2 separate regions of the Homo sapiens genome follow, and region 1 is linked to region 2. The links come from fine-mapping of genetic effects on gene expression. Tissue or cell type: vagina. Region 2 holds a variant in brackets; the other region holds the start of a gene. All regions are shown on one strand. Distances are between the middles of the regions.

Region 1 (8,102 bases), 840 kb before region 2:
TCGAAAATGTGGCAAAGGTCAGGTGCAGTGGCTCACGCCTGTAAGCCCAACAGTTTGTGAGGCAAAGGTGGGCAGACGGCTCGAGTCCAGGAGTTTAAACCAGCCTCGGCAACATGATGAAGCTCTGTCTCTATAAACAATTTAAAAACTAGCAGGACGTGGTGGTGTCTGCCTATAGTCCCAGCTACTTGGGAGGCTGGGGTGCGAGGATCACCTGAGCCCAGGGAGGTCAAGGCTTCAGTGAATTGTGATCGCAGCGCTGCACTCCAGCCTAGGTGACAAGGTGAGACCCTATCTCAAAAAAAAAAAAAAAAAAAAAAAAAAGACAAAGCTTTTCCATTCCTCTCAATCTGAGAGTCTATGAAAATCTGTTCAAGACCACCACAGGCTCTGTTCAGCCGGAAGGGTAGGTAACATTAGCATGATATTAACAATGTGCCTTCCTTATAACATGCTTACATGCTTTCATCTTGTGTCCAAAGCCTGAGCCTGCACAACCCCAACTCCTCAGCCAGTGCTGTTCTCGTTTCCTCCTCTACCGGCTCCTTCTATCAAGCCCTGGAAAATTCTGGTTCTGCTCTGGGCAAGCCCCTAACCTCCCCCTTTTCCATGAGTGCTCTCTCCATCTCTACACCATGGCTGATACTGGCCTTGCACTGAGAACAATCACTTTCCCTGAAAACTTCTCAAAAACAACAACAACAACAACAACAACACCATTCCTTCGCTTTTCTTGCAGAGTAAATGTTTTCAGGAAAAAAAGAATTCTAATCATCCCTCCCCACAGCTGTGCATTTCTGCCTCTAGGTCTTTGCTGGGGCCACTCCTCTGCCCAAGGTGCTCTGTATCCCACTAACTGTCTGGATCGTGAAAGTCCCCAGTGAGGTTCAGTCCCCAGCAGCTCCACCAAGCCCTCTCCAGTGTCCCTGCCTGCCCACACCTCTCTGACCTCACACTTTACTGCACCACAGAACTGAGTAGCCACTCATGAAATCATTTGTTCATTCTAAGTGCCCACTATGTACAAGACACTATGCTAGATGCCACAAGCAACATGAGGATGACTAACACCTAGTCCTCAAGAAATGTGTCATGGAGAAGACGATATAAAACCGCATTGAATAACGAAGCTACAAGGAAGTAGTGTGAGGCCGCAGGAGAGGTGGAAAGTAGTGACCTCTCAGAAAAACAGGGGTAACTTCTAACAGGCTGGAACAGGGAAGGCTTTACCAAGATCACATCTCAACTAAAACTTGAAGAACCAGGTCAATATCAACAAGAGAAGGAAGACAGTCCCTGCAGAAGGAACTCTGCAAAGTGTGCCTGGGGAAGGGGTGGGCTGGCGAGACTTCGGAGTCTCTAATGCCAAGCCAAGAAGTCTCAGTCATTTTTTGCAGGCAGCAGGGAGCAGGTCAATGACAACTTTTTTTTTTTCTTCTGAGACAGAGTCTCAAAAAAAAAAAAAAAGAGTCTCACCGTCACTGAGGCTAGAGTGCAGTGGCACCATCTCAGCTCACTGTAACCTCCGCTTCCTGGGTTCAAGTGATTCTCCTGCCTCCCAAGTTGCTGGGATTACAGACATGTGCCACCACGCCTGGCTGATTTTTGTATTTTTAGTAGAGACGGGGTTTCACCATGTTGGCCAGGCTGGTCTCAAACTCCTGACCTCAAGTGGTCCGCCCACCTGGGCCTCCCAAAGTGCTGGGATTACAGGCATGAGCCACCACACCCGGCCATTGGCACCTTCTGAGCAGTGTTTTCGGAAGACTCATCTGGCAGTTGGCCTTGGGAGAGGAGGTAAAGGCAGGAAGAATATGCTTAGAAGGCCACTGCAACATGGGGAGGGAGGGATGACATTCACAGAACTGGAAACTCCCCTCAGTCCGCAGGGCATCTTGTCTTCTTGCAAAGCTAGTTGGTAGGGGCTGCAACCCTTCTCAAAAGTAGCACCACCCACAGTTATTCCAAATATTCCATCCCTGTGCAGTGACCGCATCTCACTACATTCTATGTGACAGTGCCTGCTGTGCTGAGCAATCATCTCTTCTGCTAGATGATGAGCTCCCTGAGAGCCAGGGTTCTGTGTTTTACAGCTAGCCTGCCCTCAATGGGCTCAGCACATAGTGAATACCCATGAATATTTACCAGATATCTCAGGAAACTCCTGGAGAGATTCTTTCCCTAGTTCCTTGTTTTAGAAAGTCCTCTGGCCCTTCACCAGCCCTACAATTATCTCATAATTTCTGTGATGGGGTCTCCTTTAGCCTCAAAATTGGCTTATAGTCTTTGAAAACCTTGAGCTGGGCTTTAACCAAAAAGAATACTCCAGTACGGCAGGAGACACGGGAGAGGCAGGTTAACCAGCACAGGCCATTAGAGAGCTGGTGACACAGGTGTGTGATCTTTACCTAACTCCACCACCAGCTATGATAACTCCAAACCAAAGGCACTAGACCCAACAATTTCTCTTTAACGATATTATTAGTGGCCAGACATGGTGGTGGCTCACACCTGTAATCCTAGCACTTTGGGAGGCCAAGGCAGGTGGATCACTTAAGGTCAGGAGTTCGAGACCAGCCTGGCCAACATGGCGAAACCTCATCTCTACTAAAATTACAAATATTAGCTGGGCGTGGTGGCGCAGCCCTGTAGTCCCAGCTACTCAGGAGGCTGAGGCAGGAGAACCACTTGAGGTGGAGGTTGCAGTCAGCTGAGATCGCCCCACTGCACTCCAGCCTGGGTGACAGTGGAAGACTCCATCTTAAAAAAAAAAAAAAAAAAAAAAAAAAAAAGCTGTAATGATTCCTAATCTGTTAGATCAGAAGAGGGCGGGAAGGAGCAGTCTTCCTACTCAATGAGTAATCAGTTGACTTACTAGGATCACACTTGGTGACCAAGGCTTGGGAAAGACCTAGACTGGCGACCTGAGGGTAGAGCACAAAAGAGGAATTCCCGTCTCCCTGTAGGGCCAACCACACCGCCCGGACATAGCCTATATGGTCAATACTAAAGGGCCCGGAAGATCACCTGCCTAAAAAGATCTCCCTCCACTGCCAAAATCTCCTGCCACTGATGCCTGTACTTCTGTCATTGGAAGCCTTAGAATTTGACTCCTAGCCGGGTGCGGTGGCTCATGCCTGTAATCCCACCACTTTGGGAGGCTAAGGATCGCTTGAGGCCAGGAGCTCAAGACCAGCCTGGGCAACATGTTGAAACCCTGTCTCTACAAAAAATACAAAAATTAGCCTGGCGTGGTGCCGCATGCCTGTAGTCCCAGCTACTCAGGAGGCTGAGGTGGGAGGATTGCTTGAGCCCAGGAGGTGGAGGCTGCAATGAGCGGAGATCGCACCACTGTAGTCTAGCCTGGGCTCAGAAATAAATAAATAAATAATAAAAAGAAAAGAAAAAGAAAGAAATTCACTCCTCAGGACTGAGGAACTGTCTGGCCTGTCTCACCTCCTGTAAATGGAGTGTTCCCCAGAGGTATGAATTGGTTTATCAGATCACTTTTGAAGATCACAGCTGTTTTGACTGGGGATGGGGGAAGGGGAAGAAAAATCATTTTGGAACCCTCTCTACCTGGATGCCCCAAGGCCCTGGCCCTGGGTCAACAGCAGGGCTGGGAAGGTGGAGGAAGTCATAGTTTCTGACTTTCTTCCCAACTTTGCCTAAGGCAAACTTCTTTCAACAGGAGCTCCCATGAGGGTTGGGGAGGAGGTGGTGGGGAGGAAGGAGGGTGAAACCCAAGACTTTCTCTCCTGAGAAAATCTGATACTCAACTCATCAATTGGGGGAAGATTTATACTAGGAGGCAGAAGTATTGCTGACTTTACAGACAGCTTCTTGGCAGAGTTACTTTCAACAGCGGGCACCCCCCCCACCCTACCGGGAATACCCCCACCCTTCCTACACAGCGCTACATCTTGCTGAACGAACCCTAGTAGTAGGCTGCCTGCCAGCCTGCAGCCCCAACAAAAAATGGCAAAAACACAAACTGACGGCACGTGAAACATCAATGGACTCTCCTCCCCGCACAGGGCCACCCAGGCCCCACCACGGGCGGCATGTCCCTAACTCAATTTGGCTTGTGAGGGGTCACAGCCACGCTGGAAACATCTGCACCCAATAGAAGGCGATTTCCCCGGCTGGGGGCCCACCAGCCTGCCCCGGGTCTTTACCCTTCGTGGGGACTTGGACCGGCAGGGCCTGCACTTCCCACGTCCCGGGGTGACGGGAAGGGCGTCCTGCACCCCAACAAGGTCCTGGAGTTGTCTGGGAGATCAGACCGAGGGGAAGGGACGGCGATTTTTTCAAGCCCAGGCGAGGCGGTGGGGTGGAGCGGAGGAAGGAGGCAGGCCCACCGGGACTGGGGGGAGGCGGCCTAGGGCCCCGGGGGGCAGGAAACACCCCAAGCGGTGACAGGGAGCGTCCCGGCGGAGGCGAGTTCGGGAATTGGGAGAGACTCCGGGGCCAGGACGCACAGACAGGAAGCGACGCGGGAGCAGGCCGGGGAGGTGGGGCGGTCGGGAGGAGTCTGGGAGCGGGACTGGGAAGAGCGAGGGGAAGCGGGGCGCGGCCGGGGAGGCAGAGGAAGGGGCGCCGCGGCCCGGGGGTCCCTGCCCGAGGGGGCCCGCGCCCGCCCGCCCTCCTGCGGGCCGCGCCCGGCTCCGCGCCCGCCCAGCCCGGCCTAGGCCCGCGACTCCCGGCGGCCCGGCCCGGCCCTGCCGGCCTCACCGCCCCCACGGCTTCCTGCAGCAGCGCCCCGAGCCGGCTCAGCATGATGGCGCCCGGCCCCCGGCTCCCGGGCGAAAGCGGCGGCGGCAGCGCTCTAGGCGGAGGAGGCAGCCCCGTGGCCCCGGCGGCCCCGGCGCGACGAGGGGGGCGGGGCCCGGCCGCTCCGCCCCTTCCCGGCCCGGCTGCGTGGCGCTGGCTAACCCCGGCTGGGGGCGCCCAGTCGGGCTGGGAACCGCCAGCGGTGGGCCCTGAGAGTTGGCTGGGAGGTGTTTTTTTTTTTTTTTTTTTTCTTTCCTTTCTTCCGAGACAGGGTCTCGCTTGGTCGCCCAGGCTGGAGTGTAGTGGCGCGATCTCTGCTCATTGCAGCCTCCAACTCCTGGACTCATGCGATCCTCCAACCCCGGCCTCCAGAGTAGCTGGGTCCACAGGCGCGCGCCACCACGCCTGGCCAATTGTTTTTTTTTTTTGTTTTTTTACTGGGAGGGGAGGTCTCACTGTGCTGCCTAGGATGATCTCCAGCTCCTGGCCTCAAGCGACCCTCCCGCCAGGGCCTCCTGAGTAGCTGGGATTAAGGCGGGAGCTAAGGGAGGTGTTTTCGAAGAGAAATTACAATTCCTCCTGAATTGAAGTCTCAGTCAGCCCCAGGCACATGGGCTGATGAGCTCCTGAAATGTGCTGGTCCCAACCAAGATGTGCCGTGCCAAGCACACCCCGATTTGGAAGATACAGTAAGAAAGGAAAGTGTGAAACTGCAACAACCATGGCTTATATTGATTACATATTGAAATGACTATTAGGTGTGTTGGGTTAAATAACGTATATTGTTAAAATTAACTTCACGTGTTGCTTTTTACTTTTTTGACAGGGCTATCAGAAAATGTTTATGGGCTGTGGGCGGTGGCTCACACCTGTAATCCCAGCACTTTGGGAGGCCAAGGCGGTTTGATCACTTGAGGCCAGGAGTTTGAGACCAGCCTGGCCAACATGGTGAAAACCCGTCTCTACTAAAAATACAAAAAAATTAGCCAAGCGTGGTGGTATGTGGAGGCTAAGGTGGGAGAATCACTTGAACCCGAGAGGCAGAGGTTGCAGTGAGCCAAGATCGTGCCAGTGCACTCCAGCCCGGGCAACAGAGTGAGACCGTCTCAAAAAAAAAAAAAAAAAAAAAAAAGTCTGCAGCTGAGTGTGGTGGCTCAAGCCTGAAATCCTAGCACTTTAGGAGGCCAAGGCTGTTGACCAGCCTGGGCAACATATGAAGATCCTGTCTTGACAAAAAATAAAAATACAAAATAACCAGGTGTGGTGGTATGTGCCTGTAGTCCAAGCTGCTCGGGAGACTGAGGTGGGAGGAGGATCACTTGAACCCAGGAGTTCGAGGCTGCAATGAGCTATGATCGTGCCCCTGCAGTCCAGACTGGGTGACAGCAAAATAGTGTCTCTCTAAGAAACAAAAACCAGTGTCTCTGCTTATCACTGACATCATATTGTGTCCGGAATTGGTAGGTTCATTGGTCTCACTGACTTCAAGAATGAAGCTGTAGACCCTTGCAGGGAGTGTTACAGCTCTTAAGGTGGCACGTCTGGAGTTTGCTCTGATGTTCGGATGTGTTTGGACTTTCTTCCTTCTAGTGGGTTCGATGGTCTCGCTGGCTTAGGGGTGAAGCTGCAGACCCTCGCGGTGAGTGCTACAGCTCTTAAGGCGGCGCGTCTGGAGTTTTTAGTTCCGCCTGTTGGGTTCGTGGTCTCGCTGACTTCAGGAGTGAAGCTGCACACCTTTGCCGTCAGTGTTACAGCTCACAAAAGCAGTGGGAAACCCAAAGAACGAACAGCAGCAACTTATTGCAAAAAGTGAAAGAAAAAAACTTCCACAGTGTGGAAAGGAACCCAAGCGAGTTGCCACTGCTACCTTGGGCAGCCTGCTTTTATTCTCTTATCTGGCCCCACCCTCATCCTGCTGATTGGTAGAGCCCAGTGGTCTGTTTTGACAGGGCGCTGATTGGTGCGTTTACAATCCCTGAGCTAGACACAAAGGTTCTCCACGTCCCCATCAGATTAACTAGATGCAGAGTGTTGACACAAAGGTTCTCCAAGGCCCCACCAGAGCAGCTAGACACAGAGTGTCGATTGGTGCACTCACAAACCCTGAGCTAGACACACGGTGCTGATTGGTGTGTTTACAAACCTTGAGCTAGATACAGAGTGCCCATTGGTGTATTTACAATCCCTGGGCTAGACATAAAGGTTCTCCACGTCCCCACCAGACTCAGGAGCCCAGCTGGCTTCACCGAGTGGATCCCGCACCGGGGCTGCAGGTGGAGCTGCCTGCCAGTCCCGCGCCGTGCTCCCGCGCCGTGCGCCCGCACTCCTCAGCCCTTGGGTGGTCGATGGGACTGGGCGCCCTGGAGCAGGGGGCGGCGCTCGTCGGGGAGGCTCCGGCCGCACAGGAGCCCACGGAGCGGGTGGGAGGCTCCGGTATGGGCGGGCTTCAGGTCCCGAGCGCTGCCCCGCGGGAAGGCAGCTAAGGCCCGGTGAGAAATCGAGCGCAGCGCCGGTGGGCTGGCACTGCTGGGGGACCCAGTACACCCTCCGCAGCTGCTGGCCCGGGTGCTAAGCCCCTCATTGCCCGGGGCCTGCAGGGCCGGCCGGCTGCTCCGAGTGCGGGGCCCGCCAAGCCCAAGCCCACCCGGAACTCCAGCTGGCCCGCAATCGCCGCGCGCAGCCCCGGTTCCCGTTCGTGCCTTTCCCTCCACACCTCCCTACAAGCTGAGGGAGCCGGCTCCGGCCTTGGCCAGCCCAGAAAGGGGCTCCCAAAGTGCAGCGGTGGGCTGAAGGGCTCCTCAAGTGCCGCCAAAGTGGGAACCCAGGCAGAGGAGGCGCCGAGAGCGCTGTGAGGACTGCCAGCACGCTGTCACCTCTCAATATGACGAGAGGGAAAGGAATCAGTTTCCCTCGGGAAGGAAGAATAGCCCCTGTCAGAATTATAGAACCTAGAGTTTTGGGGTCTCGGGCTTCACAGGACCTGCCTCACCTTTTAGGACCCATTCCCCAGTGGGGCTGAGGCACAGGAAATGCTGACCTGCCCAGAGTGGGCTCTGTGCTGTGGTGTGGAGCCTGCAGTCCAGACTCTGAGCCAGGGTGGCCAGTGTCTGGGCCTCAGGCCCTGAGGAGGGCCAGGGTTCAGCCAAGCCCAGGCTGAGTGAGAATTGATTGGGACCTCAGTTCTCTGACAGGTGGGAGTTCCAATTCAGTCTCTGCAGATTTCTAGGCCCACCTCCTCACAGGTAAAGGACCCAGGCTGGATAGGTCAAATCAGCTTGCTTCCCTTCAGCATGTCTCAGAGGACTCTAGGGGATAATGAAAGTACATCA
Region 2 (8,102 bases):
TTCTCATGCCTCAACCTCCCCAGTAGTTGGGATTGCAGGCATGTGCCATCACATCCAGCTAATTTTTTTTTAAGTAGAGAAGGGGTTTCATCATATTGGCCAGGCTGGTCTCGAACTCCTGGCCTCAAGTGATCTGCCTGTCTTAGCCTCCCAAAGTGCTGGGATTACAGGTGTGAGCCACCTCGCCACCCTATTTTTATCTTTCAAGCAAGAGGTTAGAAAAACCTTCTCTAGAGATTGCACCAGTTCAGGTACAATGTTACCACGCTGGGGGTTTTCCAATGTAACAGGCCAACCAGATTACTCCAGTGTGATAGTCCACAAGACTCATTCACATGCTCCGTGCTCTCAGACACCCAGTCTTAAAGATAAGGAGATGACAAGGAAAGTCAGAGATAGATCTGAGGAAAGCTTCCATCTAGAAAGATCAACACCAGAATAAAGAAATAGAAAAAGGCAACTTGATGGAACAGAGACTACAGAGAGAATACAAAAAATAAAATCATCTAAATATCTTTAGGGAAATAAGAGAATATAGTGCAATCCTGAAACAAGAACATGGTATTTTAAAAAGGAACATTCAGAGAACAAGACTTTTTTTTTTTTTTAGAAATTAAAAGTATGATGGTTGGGAGATAAAGTTAAGGTATTCTCAGAGAAAGTAGAGCCAAAAGTGAAGAGGATGGAAAGCAGGGGTGAAAATATTAAAAATGAGACAGCCTGTCCTGAAAGACTAGTATCTGAATCATAGTTCCATAATGAGTGAAGAGGGGAAACAGAAGAGAGGAAATCATCAAAAAATAAGAAAATTTTCTGTATTTGAAAGACATGCACTTGCAGATGAGAAGAGCCAGTGAAGATTCAAACAATGAGTGATAACAGACTCACATCATGGCACATCTTTTTAGGAAATTTTAGAACACTGGAACTGAAGGTTCATCCTACAAGTTTCCAGGGAGGAAAAAAAAATGTAGATTGCCTACACAGGATAAGCAAACAGAATGACTTCTGACTCCTCAACAGCAACACCAGAAATTAGGACTACTCAAATTTTTTATGCAAAATGATTTGTAACCTGGAATGCTGTATCAATCGCATTGATACAAATTTATCAATTATGTGTATGGAGAGAATAAAAACGTGAATGTTTCAAGAGATTTACCCCTAAGGCACCTTTTCTTAGGAAACTATTGGGAAGTTTGCTCTGCCAAACTGAGACAGTAAACTAACAGAGAGGAAGACATGAGTTATAGGAAACAGGAATTTCTACACTGAAGATAGACGAAAGAAATGCCAGGATGATAGTGAAGGGAGATACTAGGATGCATCAAAGGCAAGTAAGCCAGATTGGAGTAGCACACAGGGCTCTGAGAGAGACAGAGAGTTCTTTAAGAAAATGAAACTGCTGGAATGTTTGATGGGTCCAACTATACTGAGAGGAGATTTAGACATTGGGCAGACAGTTGGGGTTGAAATGTGATAAATACACAGAGATGAACAAATGAAAAAGGTAAAGCAAAACAAAAACAAAAATTGAGACAGAACAGAATAGTGCTGAGAAGGAAAAAGATTCACAGTGTACCCTGAGGCTTAGCCATGCACAGTGTCTGTATGGTGATAATAGTAATGTACACCAGGTGAAGATGAATATGCCAACCAATCACAGTACATCTCCACTGGGGGTACATCGGGGCTGGTTAGGAATATGTGTATGTGGTGAGCTTGTGGAGATGAGAGCAAACTCACGTCTTACCTTTTATACTGCAAGTCGAGAGACAGCCTAGAATTGGTAAAACTCAAGAAGTAGTTAGATATGCATGCAACTTAGAGGAGTGGAGGCAAATTAAAAGTAATGGCAAAAACCACAATTACTTTTTCACCAACCTAATACTAACTGAATGCTATAACTGTTGAAGGTGTTGGGTTCTGGTGATTAAGCAATGAGGGAGATGGAGAGGAGAGGGCAGGGGCTAATGCCTTCTAAAGCATGCATGAAATAAAAGCATGTGTGATAAAAACAAAACCTTAAAAATGGCAAGGAAATTTGAAAAAGTAAATTTTCTGTTCATGTCTAGCTTCTAATAGAAAGAAATAAATAATTAGATAAATAAAAATAAAACCATTCGTGGCCATTATAGAAAAGCTGGAAATGCTAGTAAGTATGTAGATGACACTACTATTTGCACTATTCATGGCCTTTTCACTCCCATCCACTGCTATGTGAATTGCAGTCCCCTACCTACTACAGGTGTGTGATCCCCTCTTTGACTGATCGTGCCAGGCTTGCTCTGTGAGGTTTTTGGCCAATGGAATGTGACTGGAAGTGACATTCAGCTGTCCAGCAGAGGCTTTAAAAACCTTTCCAATTTCTGTCATTGTTCTTTTTCCAGTGCTTTAGAATGGCCTGCCTCACGTGGGAGAGGTTCTTTTATTGAGTGTAGAAGGACCTGTGAGATAGAGCCACTGTTTTCCCATAGATGTGTATAACATGAGCAGGAAGTAAACCTAGAAAATAGCTGAGTAATGCAATATGTAAAAGTAAACAAAAGAAAACAAAGCAACACATCTGCTTCACTCGGAAATAATCACATTTAAACTTTTGATATTGTGTAGAATGCATTATTGTTGCCCATTCTTGGACCCCCAATAACTTGCAGTGTCTACCCCGACTGGCAAGTGCATCTCCTTACCCCTTGTCTTGGGCTTTGGCTCTGTGACTTACTTTGGCCTGGTGGAATGTGGGCAGAAGTGATGCATGCAGAGGCTAGAGATGTGCTCCTGCAGTTGGGCTTGCCCTCTTATGCTTCTGCCATGATAAAAGATGCCTGGATAGCATAGGCACTGGAGAGATGTGTGGACCAGGACCTCCCCTGCAGCCCTATTGCCTTGCTTCCCTCAGGAGAGACATCCTAATAACACACAAAAAACAAGTGCTTCTTATAGGCTTTGGGGTATTCTGTTAAACAGCATTTTGTGGTAACAGCTAATTGATACCTAACGCTGATACCTAGATTCCTGCCCTTTAAGACTTTTTCTATAGAAGCATGTCTGATTTCTCCATATAGGGATCATACTATCATACTATGCTGTTTTGTAATTTTTGACTTAACGTGTCACCTCTTCTTCATGTAACTATGCATTCTTCTTATTGTTCTTTCTTCTTTCTTCTTCCTTCTTCTTTTTTCTTCTTTTTAAATGGAGTCTCATGCTGTTGCCCTGGCTGGAAAGCAGTGGTGCGATCTCAGCTCACTGCAAGCTCCGACTCCCGGGTTCAAGTTATTCTCCTGCCTCAGCCTCCCAAGTAGCTGGAATTACAGGTGTCTGCTACCATGCCTGGCTAATTTTTGTATTTTTGGTAGAGGTGGGTTTCACCATATTAGCCAGGCTGGTCTAGAATGCCTGGCCTTAAGTGATCTGCCTGACTTGGCCTCCCAAAGTGCTGGGATTACAGGGGTAAGCCACCATGCCTGGCCTCTTTGTGTTCTTCTATAGCATATTCTTAAAAATAATTGTACTGTTTGCTGTTTAAATAATCATCTACTGGTCAACATTACACTTTTTCTGTGTTTTTTCATTTCACAAGTATTTATGTGATAAACATTGTCATACAAAATTTTTTTATAGATTCATGGTTATATTAAATTCCAAGGTATGTGATCAAGTAATAAGGCTTTTATAGTTATTGTCAAATTTATTAGAATTCTATATAAATGCCCATTTTCCATTTTACCAACACTGAATATTGTTATTTGTTAAATTGTGTATAAATTTGAAACATAAATTATATTGTATTTTAATTTGCATTTCTTTGATTCTAGAGATGTTGAACAATAATTTTTAAAAATAGCTTTATGAAGGTATAATTTACATACCATAAAATACATTTTAAATGTGCAATTCATTTATTTCATAATAAATTTATAATTATGCAACCATCACAAGGATCCAATTTTGAAATATTTCCATCACCCCAAAAGCATGCCTTCAACCCATTGGCTGTCCTTTTCTCTCAGCCGTGGTCAACCTTCTACCTTAATGACTTTTGGTCTCTTAAAAATTTATTGGCATTTCCTGTTGTGTGAATTGCCCACTTTGCCCTCTTGCCTATTGGAATATAGTTCTCGTCTTAGTGATTTATAAGAACCATTCAAAGACTCAGTTAAAAGTATGAAAGTTTTAAGTCAGCGTACATAGCCCTGCTTAACTGTCCGGTCCTTCCTCCTGTAATTTTTCCACTTCAACCTTGTGCTCCACTGTCCTTCTGGCTGCTGTTGCCACCACATGCCACAGCGGTCTTCTCTTGGCTTGGGTCTTTACTCCCCACCCTTGTCCTCACTCCTACTCATCTTCCTAGTCCCCAGAACAAATAACACATTCAGAGAGACCTTCCTTGACT[A/G]TTAACTGGAGAGGTCCCTGGTATGACTTTCAATTTTTTGGCTTCAGAGGGACATATCTCTATGTCTAATGATTTATTTGAAGGTGGTCCTGCTTTTAATGTCTGTTGTCCATGGGGTTGAAAATTCTGTGAAGGTGTAGGTCCCATGTGTTTTGTTTATCACTGTATGCCTGGCCCCAGGTTGCTGATTTTCTATTTTTTATTTTATTTTATTTTATTTTGAGACAGAGTCTCACTCCATCACCCAGGCTAGAGTGTAGTGACATGCTATCAGCTCACCGAAACCTCTGCCTCCCAGGTTCAAGCGATTCTCCTGCCTCAGCCTCCTGATTAGCCGGGATTACAGGTATAGACCTGGCTGATTTTTCTGTTTCTTTTTTTCAGTAGAGATGGGGTTTCGCCACGTTGGCCAGGCTGGTCTCGAACTCCGGGCCTCAAGTGGTCAGCCTGCCTCGGCCTCCCCTAAGTGCAGGGATTACAGGCATGAGCCACTGCTCCTGGCCTTTTTTTTTTTCTTTTTGGCTTGTTTCCTCTTAATTTTATTTGTGGCATCTTCAGATCTTTATAAGTATTTAAATGTTTATGTAGTAAAGCTTATAATTTTTTTCTTTTAGAGTTTCTTCCTTTGCTTTTATGCTTAGGAGTGTCTTTTCTACATGAGAGCAGATAAGTATTCACTTATATTTTCTTCTAGGTTTTTTATGTTGTTTTTAATGAAAAATTTTAGTGCTTTTATCCATTTGGAGCTTATATTGGTTTATAGTGTGAAGACCATAATATAAAGTAACTGTATTTTCACAAACAGTTAACAAATTACCCTAACTGCATTTACGAAATAAATCTATCACCTTCTCACTGGTTGGAAATGCCACCTTTACTGGATACTAAATTCCTATGTATGCTAAATTCTATTTTTGGGCTTCCTAGCATGTACCACTGCTTTATCGATTTACTTATTTTAGTGCCAGTGTTATATAAGCCGAGGAATCTTCTAACTGTAGTGATGCTTTGCTTGTAGCATATTGTCAATATAAAGGTAGTGACAAGGGATTCCAATCTTCAGGACCATTTTCTTTGTCATTGAAAATTCATAATTGGACACTCTGGTTTTTGACATCGCTGTTATCAGCCCAGTGAGTCTGAGGCTGCCTCTGATTAAAGCCCCTTTCTTGATGTGCTTGCAAAGTCACATTTCTGGATGTGCCAGGCTATAGGTCCTATGCCTCGTCTGCAATGCTGTATTCTGCTTATCTTTAGAGTACCATATTCGGATCTCAAATGCAAGCTTTTAAGGCAACATTATGAGTAAAAAGTAGGCTAGATGTGAGACAATATGGAGAAGTGGAGACTGTGGTATCTGGAGAGTCCAAGCTGGTCTGAAGTCATTCCAATGATTTAAAAGTGTACAAGCTGAGCAAGGAATGGAGCAGACTGGATTTGGCATGAGGACTACATGTTTTCACTTCTGTTTGTATAGCAGTGAATAGTTTATTTATAGATTGTTTTATTTGATTGCTACAACAATCCTTTGAAGCAGATACTGCAATGTACCATTTTATAATACACATACTACATCTTCAAGAGGCTGAGTGACTTGCATAAAGCCTGTGAGCCAACACGTCATATTACAGATCCAGGACCCTGACGTGATCCAGGATTATATTCTTTTTCTTCCAAACCATGTTGTGGTGCCATCCGTAAATAGAGCAGGAATAACTGTGAGAAGCTTGTATGAGCTATTTCTATCACTGAATCTGAAAATAGCATGATCGAAGTGACCTACAAACTATCTATAAGCCTGGCTCTGGCTGGATTCCAAACATCAGGGCATAAGGCAGAGAGAAATGACACCAGGCAGTGAGAGTGAGCCTGGCCAGAGAGGCTGCGGGCTGAGTAACCCACTGCTTTCCATCCTCTTATTGTTGTAGTCATTTAGGAAACTCCCAGAGAGAGAGGCTGTTGGAGATGATGCACACTTTTAAATTACCAGTTCATTTCCGAAGCTGGTGTGTTCTCTCTCTCTCGCCTCTTGCCTTTCGCCTTTTCCACCTTTCCTACATGTATTACCATGGTACTCAAGTCCTGTAAGGGTGGATCACTTCTGGATGTCAGGATCCAAAGCAGGCGAAAAACCCATTTCCATTTCTAACTTTGAGCCTCAGCGGCTCTGAGTCCTTCTGAATGATACGGTCAAGGTAGATGTGAAGACTCATGAAAAGAAGGCTGCTATCTTCTGAGCCTGCTATCCTCTGACATAAGGGCTGGGGCAGGGGCTCACTACCAAGAGGGCTCTTTAACTCCATTTGAGAGAAGAGGGTTGGAGGCACTGGGAAATGAGACATTCCTTCTAGAGACCACCTGCTTTGTCTCAACAGCCAGAAAGAGGATCCTGATGAGCTTGAACCTGGAGAAAGGGTATCCCATTTTGCCTGGCACTAACTGCCAGTGCGTTTGTTTGAGCTGATGACCTTCTGAGAGTTCTGGGGACAGTGTAACCAAAAGTTTCTTTCAGAAGAAAAAAAAGGGTGACTTCAAGTGAGCCAGAGCCAGTGGGATACATCAGGGTCTTCCTGGGCTCTGCAGTAGTTTTCTGACACTGAACAAGTCTCATTCACTAAGCCTCTGGTTTCTGGCTTGCAAATTAAAGAAGTTTTAGACTAGCACATTATAGAGAAAGCAGAAAGGCCATGTCCACACAGAAGACATGCCAACTATATGGGGACGAAGTACCTAAACAGAATAGCCACGGAAAGCCTTAGACTGAGGAGTGGTGAGGCACCTCACTAGTACAAAAACATGAGCAGTCTGAAGATGGAGAACAGGTCCTTCTCTTTTTAATTGCAGTAGCATTCACATGACACAAATTTTACCATCTTTACCATTTTTAAGTATACAGTTTAGTAGAGTTACGTATATTCACATGACAATATGAATATAAACAATGCTATGTGAATATTCACATAACAGTGTGAACATACTTAATCTCCAGGACTCTTGTCACCATCCCGAATTGAAACTCTGTACTTATTAAAGACAAATTTCCCATTCTCCCCTCCACCCAGCCCCTGGCAGCAATCGTTTTACTTTCTGTCTGGATGAATTTGACTCCTCCAGGTACCTCATGTAAGTGAAATCATATAGCATTTGTCTTTTTATTTAACTTAGCATAATGTCCCCAGAGTCCATCTGTGCTGTACTATGTATCATAATTTCTTTTCTTTTTAAGGCTGAATAATCCATTGTATGTATACACTGCACTTTATTCACTTGTCAATGGACATTTGGGTTGCTTCCACCTTTGGCTTTTGTGAATAATGCTACTATGAACATAGGTGTGTAAATATCTTGTCATGACCTGCTTTCAAATCTTGTGGATGTATATCCATCCAGAAGTGAAATTGCTGAATCATATAATTCTACTCTTAATTTTTTGAGGAATTAACACACTTTTCCATGAGGGTTGCATCATTTTACAGTCCTGCCGACAGTGCATGAGGGTTCCAATTTCTCCACGTCCTTGTCCACACTTACTTTCGGGTTCGTTTTTTGAAAGTAGCCAACCTAATGGGTTTGAGATGGTATGTCATTGTGGTTTTGATTTGTATTTCCCTAATGATTAGTGATGGTGGACATCTTTTCATGTGCTTTTTGGCCATTTATGTATCTTCTTTGAGGAAATGTCTATTTCAAGTCCTTTGCCAATTTT

What was found. PIP is the estimated chance that this variant, and not a neighbour inherited with it, causes the effect.
Region 1: FHIP2B starts here. The variant in region 2 is fine-mapped to the expression of FHIP2B in vagina (GTEx, PIP above 0.99).

The regions. Positions count from the first base shown.
Region 1 is chr8:22,085,931-22,094,032 of GRCh38, reverse strand. It overlaps FHIP2B (FHF complex subunit HOOK interacting protein 2B), which reads right to left and starts at 4,883. Exons shown (of 17, transcript NM_022749.7): 1 at 4,735-4,883. The coding sequence starts at 4,779. RefSeq lists enhancers at 1-18, 4,004-4,143, 7,243-7,852 and silencers at 4,364-4,463, 4,654-4,713, 4,774-4,993.
Region 2 is chr8:21,247,570-21,255,671 of GRCh38, reverse strand. No RefSeq gene overlaps it. Among named protein-coding and RNA genes, the nearest start is that of LINC03093, 47 kb to the left of the region's middle. The variant A/G (reference allele first, on the strand shown) is at 4,397.